7 linked regions of the Homo sapiens genome follow. The protein of the gene in region 5 purifies or fractionates together with the protein of the main gene of each other region. This does not show direct contact. Each region holds a gene or a part of one and is shown on either strand. Other genes may lie near its edges.

What was found.
Region 1: the proteins of SEPTIN7 (region 5) and CHORDC1 purify together in Homo sapiens (affinity purification with mass spectrometry, with the first as the bait; one large-scale study listed by BioGRID). This does not show direct contact.
Region 2: the proteins of SEPTIN7 (region 5) and PRCC purify together in Homo sapiens (affinity purification with mass spectrometry, with the first as the bait; one large-scale study listed by BioGRID). This does not show direct contact.
Region 3: the proteins of SEPTIN7 (region 5) and SON fractionate together in Homo sapiens (co-fractionation; one large-scale study listed by BioGRID). This does not show direct contact.
Region 4: the proteins of SEPTIN7 (region 5) and RGS3 purify together in Homo sapiens (co-immunoprecipitation; one large-scale study listed by IntAct). This does not show direct contact.
Region 6: the proteins of SEPTIN7 (region 5) and TRA2B fractionate together in Homo sapiens (co-fractionation; one large-scale study listed by BioGRID). This does not show direct contact.
Region 7: the proteins of SEPTIN7 (region 5) and TOP2B fractionate together in Homo sapiens (co-fractionation; one large-scale study listed by BioGRID). This does not show direct contact.

The regions. Positions count from the first base shown.
Region 1 is NC_000011.10:90,216,550-90,220,049, reverse strand, and holds part of CHORDC1 (cysteine and histidine-rich domain-containing protein 1), read left to right. Parts: intron 1-1,865; coding exon 1,866-1,915; intron 1,916-3,500. UniProt on the Homo sapiens protein: Regulates centrosome duplication, probably by inhibiting the kinase activity of ROCK2. Proposed to act as co-chaperone for HSP90. May play a role in the regulation of NOD1 via a HSP90 chaperone complex. In vitro, has intrinsic chaperone activity.
Region 2 is NC_000001.11:156,766,081-156,770,334, forward strand, and holds the start of PRCC (proline-rich protein PRCC), read left to right. Parts: upstream 1-1,454; 5' UTR 1,455-1,691; coding exon 1,692-2,159; intron 2,160-4,254. UniProt on the Homo sapiens protein: May regulate cell cycle progression through interaction with MAD2L2.
Region 3 is NC_000021.9:33,546,038-33,549,537, forward strand, and holds part of SON (protein SON), read left to right. Parts: intron 1-175; coding exon 176-342; intron 343-3,438; coding exon 3,439-3,500. UniProt on the Homo sapiens protein: RNA-binding protein that acts as a mRNA splicing cofactor by promoting efficient splicing of transcripts that possess weak splice sites.
Region 4 is NC_000009.12:113,582,227-113,585,726, forward strand, and holds part of RGS3 (regulator of G-protein signaling 3), read left to right. Parts: exon of another isoform or gene 1-16; intron 17-1,223; coding exon 1,224-2,201; intron 2,202-3,500. UniProt on the Homo sapiens protein: Down-regulates signaling from heterotrimeric G-proteins by increasing the GTPase activity of the alpha subunits, thereby driving them into their inactive GDP-bound form.
Region 5 is NC_000007.14:35,870,557-35,874,056, forward strand, and holds part of SEPTIN7 (septin-7), read left to right. Parts: intron 1-2,109; coding exon 2,110-2,210; intron 2,211-3,084; coding exon 3,085-3,219; intron 3,220-3,500.
Region 6 is NC_000003.12:185,921,015-185,924,514, reverse strand, and holds part of TRA2B (transformer-2 protein homolog beta), read left to right. Parts: intron 1-530; coding exon 531-719; intron 720-2,388; coding exon 2,389-2,504; intron 2,505-3,327; coding exon 3,328-3,411; intron 3,412-3,500. UniProt on the Homo sapiens protein: Sequence-specific RNA-binding protein which participates in the control of pre-mRNA splicing. Can either activate or suppress exon inclusion. Acts additively with RBMX to promote exon 7 inclusion of the survival motor neuron SMN2.
Region 7 is NC_000003.12:25,598,908-25,602,407, reverse strand, and holds part of TOP2B (DNA topoisomerase 2-beta), read left to right. Parts: intron 1-1,182; coding exon 1,183-1,308; intron 1,309-2,878; coding exon 2,879-2,973; intron 2,974-3,500. UniProt on the Homo sapiens protein: Key decatenating enzyme that alters DNA topology by binding to two double-stranded DNA molecules, generating a double-stranded break in one of the strands, passing the intact strand through the broken strand, and religating the broken strand.

The sequences.
Region 1 (3,500 bases), on a different chromosome or scaffold from region 5:
AAAACAAAAACAAAATTCATAATGTTTTAAGACAGTTTACGAAATTTGTGTTGGGCTACATTCAGAGTTGTCTGGGGCGGCATGTTGGACAAGGTTGTTGTAGAGCATTGAAAGCTAAATAGACTTGAAAGGTTGAAAGATAGTCTTTTAAGCAGATTGCAGAGGGATGAAGCTGACTGTTACCTGATTTTTAAAAATATAGTACTCCATCTTGCAAATTGCTGAGAGCAGCTTGGTCGTGGAGACCCTAACCCGGTGGTGCTAGAGGAATTAAAGACACACACACAGAAATATATAGTAAGGAGTGGGAAATCAGGGGTCTCACAGCCTTAGAGCTGAGAGCCTCCAATGGAGATTTACTAAAAGTATTCCTTACGGGAAATAAAGGGATGGGCTCTGGCTAGTTATCTGCAGCATGAACATGTCCTTAAGGCACATATGGCTCATGCTATTGTTTGTGGTTTAAGAATGCCTTAAGTGTTTTTCCGCCCTGGGTGGGACAGTTGTTCCTTGCCCTCATTCAGGTAGACTCACAACCTTCTAGCCTGGGCATCAAAGCCGTCACGAGCATGTCACAGTGCTGCAGAGATTTTGTTGATGGCCAGTTTTGGGGCCAGTTTATGGCCAGATTTGGGGGCCTGTTCCCAACACAAATTGTAATAAACCCATTTACATAAGAGAAGTAAAGATTGATGGTGTAGTGGGGAGGGAAGTATAGAATAACACCCAGTGAGAATCTAGAAAATAGGCTGTAGAACTTGAGAGTTTTTTTTGTTTGTTTTTTTTAAGATGGAGTCTTGCTCTGTCACCTAGGCTGTAGTGCGGTGGCATGATCTTGACTCACTGCAAACTCTGCTTCCCAAGTTCAAGCGATTCTCCTGTCAAGATCCTGAGTAGCTGAGACTACAGGCATGCACTACCACGCCCGGCTAATTTTTGTATTTTTAGTAGACACGGGGTTTCACCATGTTGGTTAGGCTGGTCTCGTACTCCTGACCTCAGGTGATCTGCCTACCTCAGCCTCCCAAAGTGCTGGGATTACAGGCATGAGCCACCAGGCCCACCTAGACTTCTATTTTTTTTTTTTTTTTTAATTAAAAAGTAAACTTTAATGTTGAAAATGCACACTTGGGGAAGGCAGAAAGATCACACACAAGGCTGTCACTTCACACTTGGAAGGTTGCACAGTGGCCAGGCAGAGGTGCTCCTCACTTTCCAGACAGGGCTGCCGCCAGGCAGAGGCACTCCTCAGTTCCCAGACTGGGCGGGGGCAGGGCAGAGGAGCTCCTCACTTCCCAAACAGGGCAGGGGCCAGGCAGAGGCACCCTAGTCTTCTTTTTAGTGAGGTTTGTACCTAGGAATGACTGTGTCTAGGAAAGTTAAATTACCAATTAGATACTGCAAAAAATCTTTACAGTATTTAAAATGTTGAGCCTGTTATTACAAAATGTCTTTAAGGGAATCTCTTGTGAAACCTTTATGGATGAATGCACATAAGAATACTTCAAGTTTGATAGTACATTTGTAAAAGCAGGTTTGAAAAATGATGGTCAAAATTTGGGGGTTTGAAGTTTTGGTACTAAACAAATTTTACTACCAAGATTAGGGGAATATAAAATATAATTGTTATACATAAACAATTCTGTATTTTTGTCCTTAGTCATCATATGCTTGAATTAGAATTTTTAATACTATTTTAATATAGTACACTTTGTGCTGCACGTCAAACTCAATCATTTGTACCTTTTTAAGGTACTTGCGTTTGGAAAAAGGATTAAAGGTTAACACCTTAAGGAGATGATCATGTATATATTTTTCTTCATTATAAAGAGTGGTACTTTTTTTTTTTTCTCTGTTTTCTCCAGATGCTTGCACATACCACCCAGGTGTTCCGGTCTTTCACGATGCATTAAAGGTAGGAACTATATTTTCATTTTTTTCATATCTGTGTAGTAAATTGAGAGATGTAATACTAAATCTTTATTTTCTCATCTTTTTTTCTCAGCTAGTGACTTTCTTCTTAATGACCTTTGCGGGGGAGGTGCTTTAAGCGTATACTCCACTAAAGACAAAGAAAAGACAGTAGATGATGATCTTAAGGTCTTTTCCAGTTATAAAATTGTATTTTAATTCTGGGTTTTTTTTTTTTTTTTTGAGATGGAGTTTCACTGTGTTGCCCAGGTGGAGTGCAGTGGTGCGATCTCAGCTCACTGCAACGTCCGCCTCCTGGGTTCAAGCGATTCTGCCTCAGCCTCCTGAGGAGCCGGGATTACAGGCACCTGCCACCATGCCCAGCTAATTTTTGTATTTTTAGTGGAGACAGGGTTTCATCATATTGGTCAGGCTGGTCTCGAACTCCTGACCTCAGATGATCCACCTGCCTCAGCCTCCCAAAGTGCTGGGATTACCATGCCTGGTCTTAATTTTCATTTTCTACACCCATTTCTTCACTTTTCTAATTTTGAGGGAAAATAGAGTGGTTGTATTGAATCTCAGTCTGTCACTACTGGCTAATAACAGCTCTGAATTTTAGAAAAGATTCTTATAAACATTTAGTGCCAATCTCGGGACAGACCTGTGAGTTTTCCAGCTATACTTCTTGGATGTTCTGGAGAATTGGTGGAATGTTGTTTGACTAGGTTTTTGCTGGTCATCTTTTTAAAATTCATGATAGTATGATACATTTAAAGAGTTTCCTTTGTATATCTCAAAAGATGATGCTGTGGTAGGGCTGCCATGGTTTTAGGTTCTACTTCTTTGGTTCTCAGGAACATAAGCAGTCTTAACATGTTTAAATATTGTTGGTGCCCTTTAAATGTCTAATTATACCTTCCAAAGAGTAGTTAGACTGTTTTGGCACTTCACTGTTAACACCACCAAATCTAACAAAAGATGTATTAGTCTGGTTAGTTCTGAGTGAGGAAAACAGAGAAGACATTCAGTAGGGCAAGTTGAGACCTTATTCCTCCATACATTTTTTTAGTTTTTACAAATCTTTGTTGTGGTGGAAACTGTGGTGCTGTGGAAATGTTTATTTTTCTTTTTGTGGAATTTTATTTTTCCTAGACTGCCATTTCTTCTGATATTTTTGTTTTACTGTGTCTTTTTCTTTTTTTCCCTATGCTGTTTTCCTCTTAGCTCTTAAAGGTAACCTTTGGCTGTTTTCTCTCATTCAGTTCATTCATTGGTTTTCTCAAATGTCACCTCTACGCCGATGGCTCTTACAACATATTTCTATTTATGTGTCTCATTGGCAACATCAAACCAGTTTCTAGTGTGTACCGTTTATTCCAAAAGTAGTCTGCCTCTCAACTTTACTGCTCCTAGTAATGATACTACTGACTTTCTGATCATTTGGTCCATTGCCCGTTTTTTCTCTTACCGCATTGTTAATCACTCCAAGTCTTAATGAATTCACTTTGAAGTATTTTTGCTTCTCTCTCTTTTGCAGTTGTAGTGTTTATTGTGGTCTCTATTTTATAACCATTTCTTAAAGTCCT
Region 2 (4,254 bases), on a different chromosome or scaffold from region 5:
ATGCTTATGCACATTAAAGTTTGAGCACAGATTGCTCTAAGGAGCCTTCATGGAGAAGGCAGCATGGAGTTTGTCTCTGAAGGGTGGAGAGGTTGGGGAGGAGGTGCCCCATATCAGGCTCGTCTGATAGAGGATTCAAGCTTGGGCCTTTCACTGTCTCTCTGCATTGTGGTCATCATTGTCCCTCCTCATCAACCTTTCCAATTTTCTCTTCAGCCTCCTCCCAAAACCTCAACAGCCTTTTCTCTGGCTTCGCTCAACAGAATTTTCTGCAATCTGGGAACAGGGAGGTGGTGCCCACACAGAGATGAATTAGCATGTAAAGGACACACACATACAGGGCAGACAAGTAGAGGGCACTCAGTCACAGGCAGACAGGAAGGGGGCAGAGATGGGTAAACAAGAAAAGGATACAAAATCACAAGCGGACAGGGAAGGACTGGCGCACAGCAGATCATCACAAGCAGACATAAATGGGCTGGACAAGGACTCCTATAAACATGGATGGAAAGGAAGGGCACTTACAGAGACAGATGTAAGAAAGTCACATACAAAGCCATAAGAAGCAGCACTCACAGACGTAAAGGAATGTAAAGGACATCTGCAAATGGATAGGTGGGAGGCACAGCCAGGTAGGACGGACTCAAGTGATTCCTCAGAACGGTCGCCCTTTACCCCACTGAGCTGAGAAGGGATTAACCTCAAGTACCTGGCCCGGATTGTCAGAGCCTTGCCCATCTTTGTCTCACTGGTTGCTGCAGAGGGAGGCCAGGCCCCAGGCTCCAGGGTAAGGTGTGTTCCTGGATGTGCACCCCGATCCTGGTGAGGGAGATCACCTCCTCCCTTTTACGTCACATTTATTTCAACTCTTAGATGCTTATTATTAGACCTGCAGCCTCGCTTCTTTCTGGCTTGCAGCCCAATTTCGTACGGGTCCCTTGGGCCCTTGCTCTTTTTGGGATGTTTTATTCTAATTCCCAGTCCCAGCCGACTGGGAAGCTTCACCAGTTCATTTACAGATCACTTTGCCTTTAAGCAATTTTCCTCAATCCGCCAGCTTCCCAGACTCCCTTTCGTTCCCGACATCACTTGCAGTTTCTAAGAGCATCATATCTCCCAGAAATCTTAGTGGCCAAGGGGCTACCCTAGGGAACTTCAAGTACCGAAATGCTCTCCTGTCCGTCTCAGTGACTGCCGTGGTGACCGGTGGGGCTTGTAGTCACCTCGGAATTGTTAGGCGACGAAAAAAACTACTCACCCCAGGTGTCCCTGCGTCAGAGGCGGGTTTCTCTCCTGTCTCCCTTTGCTCGCCCCTAAATCCTTCCTCGGACTCCAACTCCCGCCGTGCCTTGCGCTGAGATCCCTGCGGCAAAGAACCGGGCTGTGTCCAAAGTGTTCTCTGGAAGTTGTAGTTCCTGTATTGGTGAGGCAAGGAGGAGGCGGAGTGACTCGGCGGCCATTAGCTGTGTGTAGTTGCCCGGGACTAGGAGCTTAAGTGAAGAGGTACGCCTTGTTCGGTGGAAATCAGCCGTAGCCATGAGTTTCTGCCGGGGCTAGCCCTAGAGTACGGAGCAGGCGGACTTTTCGGTTCCCCGCCCCGCCAGGTGGCGGGGCCTACTAGGCCTCCGGGCATCCCCGGTCTCAAGTAGGCCTCATCTGCCGGCAAGGGCGCCCGAAACGCGGGAGGCGCCATGTCGCTGGTTGCTTACGCCAGCAGCGATGAGAGCGAGCCGGATGAGGCTGAGCCCGAGCCGGAGGAAGAGGAGGCGGTGGCTCCTACATCTGGGCCCGCTTTAGGGGGCTTGTTCGCTTCTCTCCCTGCGCCCAAGGGTCCGGCCTTGCTGCCTCCGCCCCCTCAGATGCTGGCGCCAGCCTTTCCCCCGCCGCTGTTGCTTCCCCCACCCACCGGAGACCCCAGGCTTCAGCCTCCTCCCCCCTTGCCCTTCGGCCTGGGAGGCTTCCCCCCACCTCCAGGCGTGAGCCCGGCTGAAGCGGCGGGAGTTGGGGAGGGACTGGGATTGGGGTTGCCCTCGCCCCGAGGCCCTGGCCTCAATCTGCCCCCTCCAATTGGCGGTGCCGGTCCCCCGCTGGGGCTTCCCAAGCCAAAGAAGAGGAAAGAGCCCGTGAAGATCGCGGCGCCGGAGTTGCATAAGGGAGATGTGAGTATCCGGGGAAGGCACCCCCAAACTGTCCATCGGGTTTGAGTCGGCTGTAGGAGGGACATGTGGAGATTTCAGAACTCCTTCCTACAAACGCATCCGTGGATTCAAGGCCACTGGAATCCTCTTATAATGCGATTAATTGAGCTGAAGTTGGTCAACTTGGGGGAGTTTGGGTGTTTGCCCATGTGGGTTTCCTGAAGCTGGGCTTGCCTGCAGAAGGCCACATGTCATCATCACCTGGTACTGACAGGCCTAGGGACACTTGGATCCGCTCCCCCTTCTTTGCATCTTCACTTCAGTCCGGCTTTTTCCCCTTTCCTCCTACTGAGAACAGGATGAAATCTGGCACCTGAAGAATGACAGGAGACAGGGCTCCTGAACCTTTGCCGAACATCTGGGACAAATCTTTTCCTTGCCTCTGAACTCAAAAGCATCAGGCCTGGAGGAAAATGATAGCAATCTTGGTTTCTATTTTTGAGGGGAGTTAGAGGAGAAATCGAATATTTGTTTAGTGCAGATCATTTGCCGTTCATTGGTCCTTTCTTTCAATTATTACAGAGCTCTGGGAGGTAACATACTATTGTTTTACAGATGAGAAACAGGTGTCCAGCATGCACGATTTTACCTGGTAACAGGGCAGAGTGAAGATTAAGATTAAGGTTCAGTCTCTCTGAACCTCAGATCTGTGCCTCATATTCATCATTTAGCTATGGTCAAAGCTAGGTGAGTTAGGATGCTTGGGTACTGTTTCTAGAAGAGGCAGCGAGTCTTACCTGTTTCTATATGTGACAGTGGAAAAATACAAGGCTCCTGGAGTGAGGGCTTTGGAGATAAAGGAGAGATTAAGCCTTGGAGCAGGAACTGCTTAGAATTACTTACCGGAGAGAAATTTATTGCCCTTGCTTTTCTTCAGACTCCCAGCTCTGCCTAGGAGCCATTTCCATTCGTTGAACTTGCTGTTCCTTAAATTTCTTCTCTCAGATATCCTAATGTTCTCTCCCTCACCTCACTTGGCCTAAAAGGCCTGTTTTCGGTGAGGACTTCCCTAGCCTACTATGTATTTAAATTGCAACCTCCTATCACCTCCTCCTCCCCATTGCTCTTTGTTTTATTTTTCTCCATTGCACTTAACATCATCTGTCCTCCCACTAGTATATAAACTCCATGAAGGCAGGGATTAAAAAAAAAATTCACTGCTATAACCCTAGTACTTAAAACAGTGCCTGGCACATACTGAATACTCCCATGGATATTTTGTGAGTGAAAGAACTCCAATATGGATTTTTCATGGAAGGAGTTTCCAGAGTTTCCCTCCCAATCTTGTTTGAAACTTTCTTCCTTTTTTTTTTAAATTTTTTTTATTTTTATTTTTTTTGAGACGGAGTCTCCCTCTGTAGCCCAGGCTGCAGTGCAGTGGCACGATCTCTGCTCACTGCAAGCTCCGCCTCCCGGGTTCACGCCATTCTCCTGCCTCAGCCTCTCGAGTAGCTGGGACTACAGGCGCCCGCCGCCACGCCTGGCTAATTTTTTTGTGTTTTTAGTAGAGACGGGGTTTCACCATGTTAGCCAGGATGGTCTCGATCTCCTGACCTCGTGATCCACCCGCCTCAGCCTCCCAAAGTGCTGGGATTACAGGCGTGAGCCGCAGCACCCGGCCACTTTCTTCCATTTTATTTCCCCCTTCTTTCACACCTGAGAGTCTCTCATCCTAAGTCTAGGATCCAAAAAAAAAAAGCCTTTTATTGCTCCATGGAAACTTACTTTGGCTTTGATTTAACCTGGAACAAGGAAAGATCCCTGAATGAGACAAATAAAAACAGTCTACATGGACATGGAAAGCTCATTTCTAGCTCTGTGAAGGTAGCATTATAGAAAGTTGGGAGAGGCCGTAGAATCTGCCATTTGGGTTGGCTGAGGTGGCAGAAAACTCTGAAGACTAACACTCCCTCCTTTGTAAGCATTCACTAAATTTCTGAGGTGAACAGTAACATGGCTAATTAAAGTCCTAGCCCTTGCTGGTTGAGTTTCCCATTTTTGTTCTGTTCAAGTTGGTCTTTTGGTTCTCGGAACACATAATTCCTGCAGAAAGGTA
Region 3 (3,500 bases), on a different chromosome or scaffold from region 5:
TGTCCAAAATATAAGTAGATCATGGTAAGAAGCATTATTAGTGGTGAATATCTAAAATAGGAAAAAGGTAAAACATCTGACAGTCAGTACAACATATGATTATTGTAATTAATTGGATTTTTTTATTAATGGTATGATAAAATATTAATGAATTTCGATAACTTTTCATGTCAAGTGGAAGGAATGAAGGCCAGCTGAATGGTGAAACAAATACACCCATTGAAGGAAACCAGGCGGGTGATGCAGCTGCCTCTGCCAGGAGTCTACCAAATGAAGAAATAGTGCAGAAGATAGAGGAAGTACTTTCTGGGGTCTTAGATACAGAACTACGATATAAGCCAGGTAAGTTGGAGATAATTAACTGTCTCAAAAATTTTCTTTTAAGATTTTTTTGAAATTTGAAGGTTAATGTTAGTTTTTGACTTCAGTATTTAAGATATTTATTAAATTAAAAACTTTAGGCTGGGTGCGATGGCTCACGCCTGTAATCCCAGCACTTTGGGAGGCTGAGGTGGGTGGATCACCTGAGGTCAGGAGTTCCAGACCAACCTGGTCAACATGGAGAAACCCCCATCTCTACTGAAAATACAAAAATTAGCCGGGTGTGGTGGTGGGTGCCTGTAATCCCAGCTACTTGGGAAGCTGAGGCAGGAGAATCGCATGAACCCAGGAGGCGAATGTTGCAGTGCGCTGAGATTGCGCCATTGCACTCCAGCCTGGGCGACAAGAATGAAACTCCATCTCAAAAAAAAATTTTTTTTTCAGTAAATTTAAGCTTTTGTTTAATTGATTTAATGAAGACTTTCTTGTTTAAATTTTCCTTCCATACTTCCACTGGAAAACAAACATTGATGTACTTGTTTACTCTGCTGGTAGAATATAATTTTTATTTTTGACTTAGTTTCAGTTTATTTGATTCAGTTTCTTTTTCTTTTCTTTTCTTTTTTCTTTTTTTTGAGACAGTTTCACTCTTTTTGCCCAGCCTGGAGTGCAATGGCGTGATCTCGGCTCACCGCAACCTCCGCCTCCCAGGTTCAAGTGATTCTCCTGCCTCAGCCTCCCAAGTAGCTGGGATTACAGGCGCCTGCCACCATGCCCGGCTAATTTTTTTTTGTATTTTTAGTAGAAACGGGGTTTCACCGTGTTGGCCAGGGTGGTCTGGTCTCGATCTCTTGACCTCATGATCCGCACACCTTGGCCTCCCAAAGTGCTGGGATTACAGGCGTGAGCCACCGCGCCCGGCTTGATTAAGTTTCTTAGTATCAGGAATTTGAGTATGGATTTTTATTAAACAGTTGTGTAAAAATACCCATCCCACTTAAACTGCAGTGGATGGAGAGGAATCATTGCTTGAATATTTAGCGTTTTTGGAATTGATTAATTGATGTTTAGAAATGAAGGATTTAGCCACAAAAATAACAGTCATTACCTTGATTTAGTTCTGGAATCAAGTTTGTAATATGGTTGGTTTGTCCTCTTTTTTGGGGGGAACTTTAGCTGTGCTTAGATTCATGACTCTCAAACAGACTTGCTTAGATTCATGGCTCTAACAACCTTCATTGAAGTATGACTTATCTAACATTTTGTATTATGAAACAAACAATTAATAGAAAATGGTAAGTTTTGCTTTGGCCTATGTCAAGTGTTGATTTATTTTCTTCTGTAGTCTTTTTTTTTTTTTTTTTTTTTTTTTTTGAGACGGAGTCTCGCTCTGACGCCCAGGCTGGAGTGCAGTGGGGTGATCTCAGCTGACTGCAAGCTCCGCCTCCCGGGTTCACGCCATTGTCCTGCCTCAGCCTCCGGAGTAGCTGGGACTACAGGCGCACACCACCACGCCCGGCTAATTTTTTGTATTTTTTTTTTTTTTAGTAGAGACGGGGTTTTACCGTGTTAGCCAGGATGGTCTTGATCTCCTGGCCTCGTGATCCACACGTCTTGGCCTCCCAAAGTGCTGGGATTACAGGCGTGAGCCACAGTGCCCGGCCTTTTTTCTGTAGTCTTAATGGCTCAGATTTCTGATGAGCTTTTTTGGGGGTCCCTAAGATTTATCTAATTTGATATTGGCATTAGAGTAAATAAATCCCATCTGGTTGTTAAAGTTGAATACTCCCATCTCTTTAGGGTATGTAAATTCAAACCTTCTTAAGTTGTAAATTAAGGACTAAGAATTTCCTCTCTAAAATCAGTATTCTTTTCTAAAATAGAAACATTTGAAAAGTTATTTATTAGTGGTTTTAGAATAGTATTGGGGGAAAATGTTATCTCTTTAGGGTATGTAAATTCAAACTTTCTTAAGTTATAAGGACTAAGAATTTCCTCTCTAAAATCAGTATCCTTTTCTAAAACAGAAACATTTAAAAAGTTATTTTAGTGGTTTCAGAATAGTATTGGGGGAAAATATTATTTTTATTAGAATGTAACGTAGGCATGATAAGGTAAAATTTGAGTTCTCTATGAATATTTTATATTTGTTATTCAGATATTTTTATACTCTGTAGAAGCAATCACTAACCTTTGTTGAAAGCTTATTCTGTGCCAGGCATTATTTGATGTACTTTGCATGTTTTAACTCACTTTATCCTCTAACTCTAGAAGACACAAGTGTGTCAGTAATTTGGCCAAGACCATTAACCTAGTAAGTGATGAACTGATTGAGGATTCAAAAGTGGCAGTCTGTTCCAGAGCCAGTGCCATGTTGCTTCCTGTATAAACAAGGGTTAATAATCGCAAAAATTATATTATGTGGGTATTTTTAATAGAAACTGTAGCAACTAATAACATGAAATATATTCAGTGACAAAAGTAGTTTAAAAGTAATTTTGCTATGATTTGAGAGCTGGAGGGAATAATTATTTTAATAGAATTTAGTGAAACATGTCTTAATGTAATTCAAAGTAAGTTTTGGTGTTTAATAATTTATTTTTAACCCAGGCATTAGTTGTGGAAAGAATTATCAGAAAAGTAGTAGTCTCCAGGTTAACTGTTTTATGAAAAATAGTTTATTTGGTAACTTTTAATTTAACGTGAGGTGTTATACTGTGGGGTTTTTTTTTTTTTTTGAGACAGAGTCTTGCTCTGTTGCCTAGGCTGGAGTACAGTGGTGCAATTTCAGCTCACTGAAACCTCGACCTACTGGGTTCAAGTGATCCGCCTCAGCCTCCCAAATAGCTGGGACTACAGGTGCGCGTCACCATGCCTGGCTAATTTTTGTATTTTTAGTAGAGATGGGGTTTCACCATGCTGGCCAGGCTGGTTTTGAACTCCTGACCTCATGATCCACCTGCCTTGGCCTCTCAGAGTGCTAAGATTACAGGCGTGAGCCACTGTACTTGGCCTGTACTAAGGTGTTTTAACATGGAATGTAAATATGGGTTTATATGATTTAATCTAACTCTACTTTGGGGAATGTCTGACAAAATTAATTTCTATTACTTTTAGACTTGAAAGAGGGCTCCAGAAAAAGTAGATGCGTATCTGTACAAACAGATCCTACTGATGAA
Region 4 (3,500 bases), on a different chromosome or scaffold from region 5:
AGCTGTACAATAGTGGGTAAGTCACCGGCCTTTGGGCTCAGTTTTCTCATCCATCAAATGGACATTAATGATTTCTACAATGAGAGCTCTTAACCCATGTTCTGGGGGTACTTACCCCTGAAGTTTTCTGCCAGTGTGCGCGTGTGCCCGCAGGTGCACACATTCCCAAGCATCTGTTCAGTTCCCGAGTATGGGTGAGGTCTTTCCCTTTCATTAGTTCTCAGCAGCTATGGCTTCTTGAAGACAGAACCTGGGCTCTAAATAAATAGTTCCAGCTCCGGCATTCCTGGTCCTTGACTGGGAGGGGCCCACCCCAGACTTGAGAACTGCCTCCCTGTGTGGTTGTGGCACCATGGACACTCCTGACTTTCTCGGGGCCCCAATCTTCTGGTGACATAGCTGCTATTCAGACTTTCATTAAGAGAAATGTTTTTCTCTTTGCACATGAAATCTACTGTCGAAACTCAGCAAAACCCCCTAGGATCCCGAGGGTTGTGTGTGAGGCAGGAGATGCTGTGTTTTTTGAGGAATCCCTGAGCTTCCTCCAAGCAGTTTAAAAATCCCTGGGTGGGTGATTCTTCAGGGAGGTTCCGTGTGTCTGCGACATCTGGTGAGTCCAGGTGTGGACAATATTTTAAAGTTCCGGTTTCATTCCAGTTTAATAGTTTCAAAAAGATACTTAAGCGTTCAGAGCACATTCTTGTTTGAATGACTCATTAGGATTTTTTAAACTTGAGTTCAGGTAGAAGACACCCTGGGCTGGGTTCAGTGACTGCCCTGGCTTGGTTCTGGTCCATAAGCAGAGACTGCCTGGTTCTCCTTTATCCCCAGAGGCAACTTTGACCCTGTTTCCTTTTCTGTAAAATGGGGACAGTGATGCTTCTTTTATAGGGTTGTCGGGAAGGCCACATAAGAGAGTGGGGTCAAGCTGGCCTGGCACCTGCCAAAGCAGGAGCTAGATAGATAGTGGTTATCTCTCCCTCTTCTCCTATAAATGACCAGCTGTGTTTTTGATGGAGCAGAAAGTTCAAGCAAGAAGACAGGGTGAGAATTGTTACCCAGCTAAGTCAAAGGGGCTTTGGGGGTTCCATCTGGCACCTCAGCTTTCAGACTGGGGGCCCGGGGTTCAGGCCACTGCCTGATTTCATGTCAGCTCATGCATGGTGTCTGGCATCTTGGAGCCTCCTCTTCTGAACTGTTCTTGTTTTCTTTTTGTTTCCCAGATGTTTGAGACGGAGGCAGATGAGAAGAGGGAGATGGCCTTGGAGGAAGGGAAGGGGCCTGGTGCCGAGGATTCCCCACCCAGCAAGGAGCCCTCTCCTGGCCAGGAGCTTCCTCCAGGACAAGACCTTCCACCCAACAAGGACTCCCCTTCTGGGCAGGAACCCGCTCCCAGCCAAGAACCACTGTCCAGCAAAGACTCAGCTACCTCTGAAGGATCCCCTCCAGGCCCAGATGCTCCGCCCAGCAAGGATGTGCCACCATGCCAGGAACCCCCTCCAGCCCAAGACCTCTCACCCTGCCAGGACCTACCTGCTGGTCAAGAACCCCTGCCTCACCAGGACCCTCTACTCACCAAAGACCTCCCTGCCATCCAGGAATCCCCCACCCGGGACCTTCCACCCTGTCAAGATCTGCCTCCTAGCCAGGTCTCCCTGCCAGCCAAGGCCCTTACTGAGGACACCATGAGCTCCGGGGACCTACTAGCAGCTACTGGGGACCCACCTGCGGCCCCCAGGCCAGCCTTCGTGATCCCTGAGGTCCGGCTGGATAGCACCTACAGCCAGAAGGCAGGGGCAGAGCAGGGCTGCTCGGGAGATGAGGAGGATGCAGAAGAGGCCGAGGAGGTGGAGGAGGGGGAGGAAGGGGAGGAGGACGAGGATGAGGACACCAGCGATGACAACTACGGAGAGCGCAGTGAGGCCAAGCGCAGCAGCATGATCGAGACGGGCCAGGGGGCTGAGGGTGGCCTCTCACTGCGTGTGCAGAACTCGCTGCGGCGCCGGACGCACAGCGAGGGCAGCCTGCTGCAGGAGCCCCGAGGGCCCTGCTTTGCCTCCGACACCACCTTGCACTGCTCAGACGGTGAGGGCGCCGCCTCCACCTGGGGCATGCCTTCGCCCAGCACCCTCAAGAAAGAGCTGGGCCGCAATGGTGGCTCCATGCACCACCTTTCCCTCTTCTTCACAGGACACAGGAAGGTGAGAAAGCTAAAGGGGGAGGGAGAAGGATACATGCAATGTGGGGAGGGCTGGCCCAGGGGCTGCAGGGAATGAGAAGTCACCATGTTCCACCCCCACTATCCTGGCAGCCTCCCAGCGAACTTTCCACCTGTTGGACAGAAGATAAAACTGAGGCCCAATGGGACCAAGAAGGCAGAGCATGGACTTAAACACATGACTTTAGGATTCCAGATGCTGTGTTCTTATAGCTCCACTGGTCCCCACAGAAAGCAGAGCAGGTGTAGCTTAGCCCAGGCCATTGTGTATTTGGATTTAAAAGATCTGAGATAGTAGCTGGAGAAATAGAGTTACAGCCTAGCCAGACTAGAAATCCATCAGCCAGTCACAATGACAACACACATTTATTCCGTGTCCACATTATCCTAAGCAGTTTACATTAACTCATTAACTCTCACAACAGCCCTTTGAAGTAGATAGTATTTTTGTGCCCATTTTACAGCAGAGGAAACCGAGGCAAAGAGAGGTTATCTAACTTGCTCCAGGTTACACAGTGTATCAGTGTCTGAACTAGAATTAGAATCTGGTTCCAGGGCCAGTGCTCTTAACCAACCACCACACCGTTTGCCTCTCGTGAATATTTATATGTAGATGAATAAGTATTTATGGATTTCCTGCTGTGTACCAGGCCCTGCGCTCTGCAACATGGCAGGAGCCACAGAAGTGTGTGAGGCTGGTCTCAACCTGAGAGAAATAAGTTAACTGTGTGAGCCTTGAAAGTGGCCTAACAGTGAACAGATTGCGCCATGATCTTGAAGCCTACCAGCTAGTTTGGGTCTGGGCTCTGTTTCTTACTATGTGGCTTTGGTTGAGTCACTCAACTCCTCTGAGCCATAGTTTTCTTCTCTGAAAAGTAGGGGTTAATAGCACTCACATCCCAGAATGGTTGAGGATGAATGGAAGAGGCTGGTGCCTGATAACACTAGCCGCTTGAGAGGCGGCCCTCAGGGAATGCTGGGCCCCACTCCTTCTCTTGAAATGCAACAGCCAGTGCAAGGTGTTGGTGTGAGGCTAGGTGAGTAGGGGTGCTCAGTGCCCATGGAGCACAACTGACTCAGAGATCTAGAACTTCAGGAGGACAGACCCCAGGGCCTAAAGCCATCAGGGAAAGCTTCTGGAGGAAGATACCTCTCAGCTTGGCCTTGAAGGATGAACAGGATTAGAATAAACAGAGAGGTAGAGGCAAGCATTCTTTGGCTAGAGCAGAGCATTCCTAAAGGGCAGATGCCTGGCACAGGTGCTGCTATTCCTCCCTCCAAC
Region 5 (3,500 bases):
TGAATAAATGATCTGTCTTTATAAAGGAGATGGAAGTGAATTCAAGATATTGAGATGTTAGATTTGACTGGGTTGTCCTTTGGCTAGAAGATCACCAGATAAAATGTAAACCTCCTAAACTAGATGAGATGATACCATTAAACATTTTTTTTGGCCCAGCACTTTGGGAGGCTGAAATGGGAAGATCGCTTGAACCCAGGAGTGAGGCTGCAGTAAGCTATAATCTGCCATGCACTCCAGCCTGAGCAACAGAGTGAGACCCTGACTAAAAAAAAAAAAAAAAAAAAATGTTTTTCCTTTGGTTCTCATGATCTCACACTGATGAATCTGATTGTTTTCTCTGAGTTATTTTGCCTCTCTCATGTTATTAGGGTAACCTGATAATAGACATGTTATCTTAGTTGTGTGGTATGTGACAGTGATCTCCTAAATGATGTGCATCAATCATTGATACTGAGGATGATCAGAAAATATTACAACTGTTATTGATGTTTACTTTTTTAATCTACAGATTAATGATAATGCATATTAATACTTAATATTCAGATTGCCAATAGTATATATTTGGTGGATAAATATCTTTTGGATCTGCAAAATTTTCACTTGATAGTTTATATCAGGATCAAAGCAGTTTAAAGAACATTAAAAGATAAGAATTTGGCATCTCATTTCTCTAAAAGATAAGTCATGTGTGTCCACATCTCAGGCAATTTTTTTCAGTTTTAATAAGTTTTATTCCTCATAATAAAATTTTTTTAACAGAAAACTCTTGATTGCTGTAGACCTCTGCTGTGTATTCGGTAGTCACTAGCCATATGTGGCTATTTAAGTTAATTCAAATTAAATAAAATTAAATATCAGCTCCTCATTTGCAGTAGTCAGATTTCAAGGACTAAGTAGCCACATGGACAAGTGGAAGGTGGTGTTCAGTTGCTGCTCATAATAGTTGATACCCTAGGATTTGGAGATGCAGTGTGGATACACAACAATTCCATCATCTCAGAAAGTGTTATTGGATAGTGTGGCTACAGACTTTTCTTGCTCAGCAATCTTAGTCTCCGCATGTTAGTCTCTTCATGCATCAGGTAGCATCTATAAAACATGCCAAAAGGAAGTAGGCTATCTCTAAAAGTGTCCCAAACTTTTTGTCTTGTAAATTAGCTTATCAGCATACTTGGAGCCTCTAGCCTTAATAAGGACTTGTTATCCTTATTAAATGTGTTATCAGGAGAAAGCCTGTCTTTTTCTGGAGGAATTATTCCCTTTTCATTTGAATCCGTGTTTGCTTTATCTTGGGTTCCTGAAAACTGATATTTTGCATTTAACAGCAGCATATGCCCAGGATGAATGATAATACATCTTCTGATACAGAGCTTGAGATTACAGAATGTCTTAAATTGTTCCAGGAACTGTTGTTATCATTTAAGTCCAATAATCAGTTAGTAAGGTTTCACCCTACCAGAATACACTTTTTTTTAAAATAAAAACTGTCTGGACTTTTGCTGATTACATTGTCCAGAATGTGGAGTATCACATTTGAGAAAAGGATTGGATCCTAGCCATAACATAAATACAAGGGTAATACATCCATGCTGAGAAAGATTAAGGAATGATAGTAAGTTTATTTGAGTGAGTGGTTGGGGCCAAACTTGATAGAGAATAGTCCAGGAAGACATTTACTGTAAATGGTAGATTAGATGTTCTTCTCTGATTAATTACATTTGAACTCTGTGAATTATTAAATCACTCAAACTGCTTATTTGTATTATTAGATGCACATTTAAGTTATATAAGTATTACATGTCTTTAGTGGTGATCACTATTTTATCAGTTCCTCTGTCTGTCTTTATACCAAGTATGAGTCATAAACCCAGTATGAATTTGCCAAGAGATTGGCAGACTATTTGTATATATGCTTTTCTTTCAAATAATCTGGATTTCCAATGCCCGCTATCATCAATTCTAAAGGTAATGTGGTAGTAGGTAGATTTAGTTTGCTAACAGTTTCCCAGTTGGTTTTGATAAACTCGAACGTCCCTACCATCACCCCTTGTAGGAAATCACTGATGTAATGTATGATATTAACATCTGCACCAATTACTCTTACAGGTGGAACAATCCAAAGTTTTAATCAAAGAAGGTGGTGTTCAGTTGCTGCTCACAATAGTTGATACCCCAGGATTTGGAGATGCAGTGGATAATAGTAATTGGTAAGAAGGGTTTGTCCTCACAACTTTGCAGTGCATTTGGGGTACTGGGGTGGTTAAACTTTTTCTTCTTAACATTTTAAAACTTCTCATCTTAGCAAAGGTCACCAAACTTCAAGCAACATGACTTGGGTTTGTATACCAACTTTGCCACTTATCTGACAAAGTTGTTTAACTTCTTTGAACCCATTTACTTTTCTATAAAATGGAGATAATACCTATCATAAAATTGTTTTTAAGACATATTCTAAAATAACATAGGTAAATAGAAGAATTCTCATTATTGTAAGAAATTTAAAACTGTTCACTTTAATTTTATTCATTTGTATAAATTCTATCTCAATCCTAATTTAAACCTGATATTTAGACTTTCAGTTTTTCTGTAAGTCCTAAGTGAAGAAAACAACTATGAAATTTTAGTCTGAAGTAATTATCTTAGTATTTTATAAATAATACTTTTATTTTTGTTTGAATTCACATTGTTTTTGAGGTAATTTTCTGTCAACTCTTAAAACTCCCAAGTTCACCATGAAGTTTTTTTATTATTTAAAGTAATCTCTCATTTGAAATTTTAAACTGCATATAATTGTTTTCATATTATGAAGTGTGTTATTAATACACTTATTAGTGCAAATAATATGCTAATATTTAGCTGTGTTTCGACAGTAAATAGTTTATTTTCTTTCATTTGGAAAGTTTTGAATAATGAATATTTATTCAACATAATTTATATTTTTGAATATATAGAATAACTTGACATATCTTCTACTGGTAAATTCATTTTGCCCATTTGAAAATACTGATTATTGTCCTTTAACAGTCATCAGTTAATTCATATGTAGAATTGCAGCTTGTTTTGTTTATTTGCGTTCTATAGCTGGCAGCCTGTTATCGACTACATTGATAGTAAATTTGAGGACTACCTAAATGCAGAATCACGAGTGAACAGACGTCAGATGCCTGATAACAGGGTGCAGTGTTGTTTATACTTCATTGCTCCTTCAGGACATGGGTCAGTACCTTGATACTTCTGATTCCTTTTTTGTTGTTGTTGCTTACTGTTACCTTTATGTGCATACTTTAGTAATCTTTAAGTTTGTGAAGTACACACAACTATAGCCATTATGAAGTACTAAATTTCATGTAGAAATGTCTTAGTTGAAAAGCCATTTTAAGTCCTATATAAGCTAACAGTGATTTTACTCCTTAGTTCTTCATTCATAAGGATTTTCCCTGCTTCATGAAATAAACAGTGTTGCCACCATGGTTTGAGGTCTCAATGTGGCAAATTTA
Region 6 (3,500 bases), on a different chromosome or scaffold from region 5:
ACGATTGCAAGCTGTTTATGACCTGTAAAATGGTTTGGTACGCATCCCCTCAGGCTTCGTTTATGTACTTACTTGTGTATTGTGTTTCTGAAAAAATCGAACCATACATGCTCATCTTTTTGGCAATTCAGAGCATTCTATTGAATGGAAGGTGTGTCAACATTACAATTTTTTCTAGCTGATAGACACAGTGTGGTTCCAGTTATCCTTGTATGTCATGTTATGAATATGTGAATTTTTCTTAGAATAAATTCATAGAAGGAAAGATGCCAAGTTGCTTTTCGCCAGCACGAGTGCTTGTTTACCTACTTAATTCTAAGGTTGAAATTTTTTCTTTTGCATTCTTTCCTACCCATTCCCAAAAATACTTGTAGTACTTGCTGTAATTTTGTAATTTCTAAGCAGTGTTTGGTCTAATCATTATGTACTTTTCTTGTTAGTGACATTTTGGCTAGTATACAGCTCCCTTTTTAAACAACTTTGATTTTATGACAACTTTTCCAAAGTTTAAAACTTTTTTTTTTCCCTAGGCAAATCCTGATCCTAACTGTTGTCTTGGAGTATTTGGGCTGAGCTTGTACACCACAGAAAGAGATCTAAGAGAAGTGTTCTCTAAATATGGTCCCATTGCCGATGTGTCTATTGTATATGACCAGCAGTCTAGGCGTTCAAGAGGATTTGCCTTTGTATATTTTGAAAATGTAGATGATGCCAAGGAAGTAAGTAAAAGCCCGTTCCTTTGTAAACCATCAGTTCTATTGTTAACGCCAAGTTATCAGTGACCAATTGCTAGGATAAGGACAAGGACAAGTCAGTAATACTTCGAACTTTTTCTCCAACCTCTTGTGGAGACTCAAGATACATGCAGAATAACAAAATTTTGTATAACTTGGGGAAGTTGGTCCTACCACCTGCTTTATTAGTTGCCACCTATTGGGGTCAACTATACCCCAATTCCGCCAGGATATGTAGTCAGTGTTTACACTGGGTTCACATTCTAGAGTCAAAAATAACCAAAAGCAAAGTTATGATGCAGAAGGAAAACATTGTTCCTTTTTTGGCTAGTGAATGATGTCATATTTGGATTTTGATTTGTTTTGAGGCAGAATATAGAGTCAAGATTTGAAATGTGGGGCTAGACCCCATTTAAGAAATTCAGATTTTAGGTACATTAAGGATGGTAGCTAAAGTCATCTCCAAGTATAGAGAAGAGGAAGAACTGAGAAACACTTAATGACAAACGGAGTTTCACTCTTCTTGCCTGGGCTGGAGTGCAATGGCGCGATCTCCGGCTCACCGCAACCTCCGCCTCCTGGGTTCAAGCAATTCTCCTGCCTCAGCCTCCTGAGCAGGTGGGATTACAGGCTACCACACCCAGCTAATTTTGTATTTTTAGTAGAGACGGGGTTTCTCCATGTTGGGTCAGGGTGGTCTCGAACTCCCAACCTCAGGTGATCTGCCCCCCTCGGCCTCCCAAAGTGCTGGGGGATTACAGGTGTGAGCCACCATGCGCGGCCGCCCATTTCCTAATTAAATTTTTGCAGTAGGATCATAGCTCTCGGAAAATAGCATAAATTTTATCTTAATCTCTAGTGCCAGAAACTGCCTGGGCGTAAACACTAGCTTGAACATCTGAACTAGAAGATAGCATAGTATTGGAATTAGAAACTTAAATTCTATTTAGGTGAAAGGATGTTTCCTCAAATTATGAACAAACTTTAATGTGTTTGAAACGGGGTATTTTTATTTTTTAAATGTATGCTGTTAATACATACTTTGGGAAAAGGAACTATATGTACTTAAGGCTGTGCTTCAGTCTTAGCTTTTGGCTTCCAGAGAAGGGCTAAGAAAACTTCCAAGGGTTAAATAATGTGTTCAGGTTTCAGTCATAGGATCTCAGTCGCAACTATTTAACTCTGTTGTTTTAACCCAACAGCAGCCAGATGAATGAGTTGGGGCCCTATTCCAATAAAAGATTATTTTGGGGCATTGGAATTTGGATTTTGTGTGTTTCTTCACTTGTCATGAAATACTGTTTTTCCCCCTAGTTATTTAAATTTTTAGCTTATGGGTTATACAGAAACAGCCAGCTGGCCAGATTTGACCTACAGGCTATAGTTTGCCAATTGTGTGCTGCTTTGGAGCTGGAAATACTGTCAGGATCATAGTTAGGTAAAATAATTGTTTCAAGTTTTTATGAGTAGCTTTTACAAATGAACATTTAGTAGAGGGAACAACACATTTGTAAGTTGTAGACCTTACGTTCTGGCTAACATTAAGATAACTTAATGCACCTAACTGAAATGTCCAGTGGGATCTTACTCATAGCCACAGGATAATTAGTGGCTTTGTTCAGGATGTATGTAACAATTTATTTACCTTTTGAAGGCTAAAGAACGTGCCAATGGAATGGAGCTTGATGGGCGTAGGATCAGAGTTGATTTCTCTATAACAAAAAGACCACATACGCCAACACCAGGAATTTACATGGGGAGACCTACCTAGTAAGTTTATTTTCAAAATAAATATAATTGGCAGTTTTTCACTTGTCAAAGAAACACTTGTATTAGTGGAAAGTCTTCAGCACTTAGGTTTGTGCCATAAACTTGACTGTTGATTGATTAAATGCTCCTCATTAGGGCATTTTTCTCATAGTAGAAGTTCAACCATTACAGGTAAAACTAAATCTTAGTCAAGTCCATTTTTAAATTTTTTGTTTGTTGTTGTTTGGTTTTGTTTTTGTTTTGTTTTGAGACGGAGTCTTGCTCTGTCGCCCAGGCTGGAGTGCGATGGTGCAATCTCAGTTCACTGCAACCTTCGCCTCCTGGGTTCAAGCAGTTCTCCTGCCTCAGCCTCCCGAGTAGCTGGGACTACAGGCGCGTGTCGCAACGTCCGGCTAATTTTTTGCATTTTTAGTAGAGGCAGGTTTTCACCATGTTAGCCAGGATGTTCTCGATCTCCTGACCTCATGATCTGCCCGCCTCGGCCTCCCAAAGAGCTGGGATTACAGGCGTGAGTTGCTGCACCCGGCCTAAATTTTCTTAAATAGAGCAAAGTGATACTATTTTTGTTTCCTCTTAGAAATATGTGGGATATGCAGATTGACCTCTGGCAGGATCTGTGTGCCTCCTTAACCAAAGATTTTTAAAAATAGGTTTATATATATTGAAACAAGGGAAAGGGCAATGTTTGCTCAATATAGGTGAGAATTTTAACAGGAATAATTTTCATTTTCCAGTTAATGTGTCAGAAAAGGCCTACTAGTAGATATAAAAACTCATGTCCAGAAAGATAAGGGAGGTCACCTGAATATTTTTTTCTTCATAGTGGCAGCTCTCGCCGTCGGGATTACTATGACAGAGGATATGATCGGGGCTATGATGATCGGGACTACTATAGCAGATCATACAGGTAAGTTATGAGGTAGAAAGGTCAACGTCTGAATCTCAGTACAGTGTACAGAGCAGCACTATGCTTAAGTTTTAGCCTTTGTTAAAAGC
Region 7 (3,500 bases), on a different chromosome or scaffold from region 5:
TTTTTTTTTTTGAGACAGAGTCTTGCTCTGTCACCAAGGCTAGAGTGGAGTAGCGTGATCTTGGCTCACGGCAACCTCCCTTGCCTGGGTTCAAGCGATTCCTCTGCCTCATCCTCCCAAGTAGCTGCGACTACAGGCACACGCCACCTCACTGGGCTAATTTTTTGTATTTTTAGTAGAGATGGGGTTTCACCATGTTGGGCAGGCTGGTCTCGAACTCCTGACCTCCAGTGATCCGCCTGCCTTGGCCTCCCAAAGTTCTGGGATTACAGGTGTAAGCCACTGCAACTGGCCTTATTTATCAGTTTTCACATAGAACTGCAGATAAAGCTGTAAAACAAGGTCTATTTTTCAAAATTCCAGAAAGCAAAGGCCTGGTATCAATTGTCTACTTATCTAGGATTTTATATTTCTTTCCACATAAAAATGCCAAGTCTGGATTTCAGCTTTTGAATGGAAGTGAGTTGGTTTCTATTCATTGTATTCGAGGATCCCATACATTTTTTTCTCTAAAACATTCTAAAAGTTAGGACTTAATCTGTGGTTATATCTGGGTTATAATTAATTTATCAAATATGCTACTCTTTTGTCATGACTATTCTGTATTTAAAAGTTACTGCTTAATTTATTTTAATGGCTCTTCCTTAAAATGTCTTAATTGTATTACCTAAGGGCAAATTATACATAATTAAATAAAAAGCATTTTGTCATCTATGAGAAATTGTTTGCCTTTACATTGCCGCCAAGCAGAGAGAAACCATTTCATTATTTAAGGCGACTCAATTTTTTTTTTTGAAGATAGAGTTTTGCTCTTGTTGCTCAACTGGAGTGCAGTGGCGCAATCTCAGCTCACTGCGACCTCCCGGGTTCAAGCGATTGTCCTGCCTCAGCCTCCCAAGTAGCTGGGATTACAGGCATCTGCCACCACACCTGGCTAATTTTTTTATTTTTAGTAGAGATGGGGTTTTACCGTATTGGCCAGGCTGGTCTTGAACTGCTGACCTCAGGTGATCCACCCCGCCTTGGCCTCCCAGAGTGCTGGCATTACAGGTGTGAGCCACCACGCCCAGCCAGGCAACTCAGTTTCTAATCAGCTATAAGAAATTCCATTTATATAGGACTCTCTTCAGTTTGGTTTGTTGGTAAGTATATTGACCTGTGAAATGGAAATTTGCTTACTAGGAAAACCGTCTTCAGATACAGTCCCTAAGCCCAAGAGAGCCCCAAAACAGAAGAAAGTAGTAGAGGCTGTAAACTCTGACTCGGATTCAGAATTTGGCATTCCAAAGAAGACTACAACACCAAAAGGTGAGGATTATCTTCTTATAACCCTTTAAACATATGCTGTGTGGAAAAGATTGAATTTTTTCTACCTCATTGAATTTAGAGAGGCTAGGTATCTATTTTGTTTTAAATTGCTTTACTCCTCAGTAAGCAGTGTGTCTAGGAATCAGTGCTGAATATAGTCCAAAGGAGGCATAGCAATTTAGTTCAGTCACTTTGTTTTACAAATTAAAAAATTGAGGCTCAAAGAGGTTAAATAAGAATCCCTAAGAATGGTCCAAATTCTCCCCTGCAGCCAACTCACTGAAAGTTGTTATTAAAAAGTCAGATCAGTACTCCACACTAACTGTGACACTTATAGTAATGGGCTAGATCCAGGACTCTTAGGCTAGAACTTTTTTTCTCACCTAAGAAATAACTGTATTCAGGGCCACACAAGGAACAGCACCAGTTCTCCATGGCATCCCCTCTTTAACTCCAGAATCTGGAAAGCCCTTGAAGATGTTTTGTAAAATATGTTTGTAAGACATGATATGAGGGTAGCTCATGCTGTGAGGGTAGCTGCTCTACCTTTTATTCAACTGAAGGATATCTTCCTCAGTGTGTTTCTTATATTTCTTTAAGGAGTGGTTGGGATAAGGAGCTGTAGACCTACAGGGAAATGGGGATAATAGGGTGGAAAAGAATCACAGTGACTGGGAAAGTAGTACTCAAGATATGCAGGATTGAAAGCCTTTATAAATTCAAAAATGCTATTTCCCTGATTCATTTGATCAAATATGACATCCCAAGATTATTTAAGTCTATCTTCGTACTTGTCCAGTCTAGCTGTCAAGGGATTTTAAAGATATAAAATTGCTATTTAGTTGTTTTATTTCATTGGCATCATTGTGGGATGGAGAACATCTGGCCCCTACTTAAATATTACCTTTTCTCCTTCCACCTCCAATGATGAGAATAAGAGGTTAGGTAGGTGAAAAAAAATGCTGCATGTGCTGAGTCTAGGTCTGAGAAGGAATATGTATTTGACATTTTATAGTTAATACTGGTGGTTCTCATATGGTGCCACTTAATGTGGGATATGCAATTGGTTGTTACTAGTCTTTGATAAGTAAAACGGAGTAAACATTTAGACCTTTATAATAATGTGTTACTAAAACAGCATGTGATTACATTTTTTAGTAATTTGTGTTCTATGGTATTTTTAAAAGTATTGGCCCATGACAAATTAGAAATGAAAAAAAATATTTAAATCCCATGTAATTTAAGAAGTACTCTTCCAAGATATTTCCTTTTCAGGCTCAAGGACCAAATAGCAAATACAAATGTTTTATGTATGAAGGGATTCATCATTAAAATTTGTCTTTGGGACTTTCCCACTAGTTTAAATGTATTTGTCAAAAAGTCTTTGGTCATGTCAACCCCAGAATTGAAATGCTACTGCCAAATTGTTTATAATCACTCATAGTAAGAGATCAGGACTGCAATGCTCCACTGATTGGGCATGCCAAAGAAATAAACTACAATGTTGTGGCATTTATCTTTTTATATTGCACTTAACCACGGAAGAAAAAACCTTTTGTATCATTTTAAGGTAAAGGCCGAGGGGCAAAGAAAAGGAAAGCATCTGGCTCTGAAAATGAAGGCGATTATAACCCTGGCAGGAAAACATCCAAAACAACAAGCAAGGTAACCGGGAACATCATTGCATATTAGTGCATGGCTTTTTAAAAAAAGATCTGTAAGTGACTTAGTTTGCTTATGACTATAGTCCTGGAACAGCTTTCCACCTAGCATCTCGTATCAATATGGGGCTTGTATTTGGTTAAGAAATTATTCAAGTATAAATTTATATAATCAGGACTATTTCCTAAATAACTGTGCTATAAATTAACCTACTTAGAACCTTCCATTTCATCCACTGAACTGTAGTAGTGTTATGCTACCTAAATATTAGACTCTTTCAGACTAAAATATTATTTTTCAGACTAAAGACTGTTTCCTTTTAACTTGGATTTATTTGACCAGGGCTAATTTGATTTTTTTTTTAATTGAATTCATTTGACTGTGGCTGATTTTTCCAATTAGTCTGACCCTTTTCCAGAAGTACACTATTTCTTTTAGGTAAATGAATGACATCAGCTCCCCCGCATCCCTTTTTATGTTGATTTCCACATTGACCTCTTCCATTCAGTCATCTTCTATGTCTCAGGTCC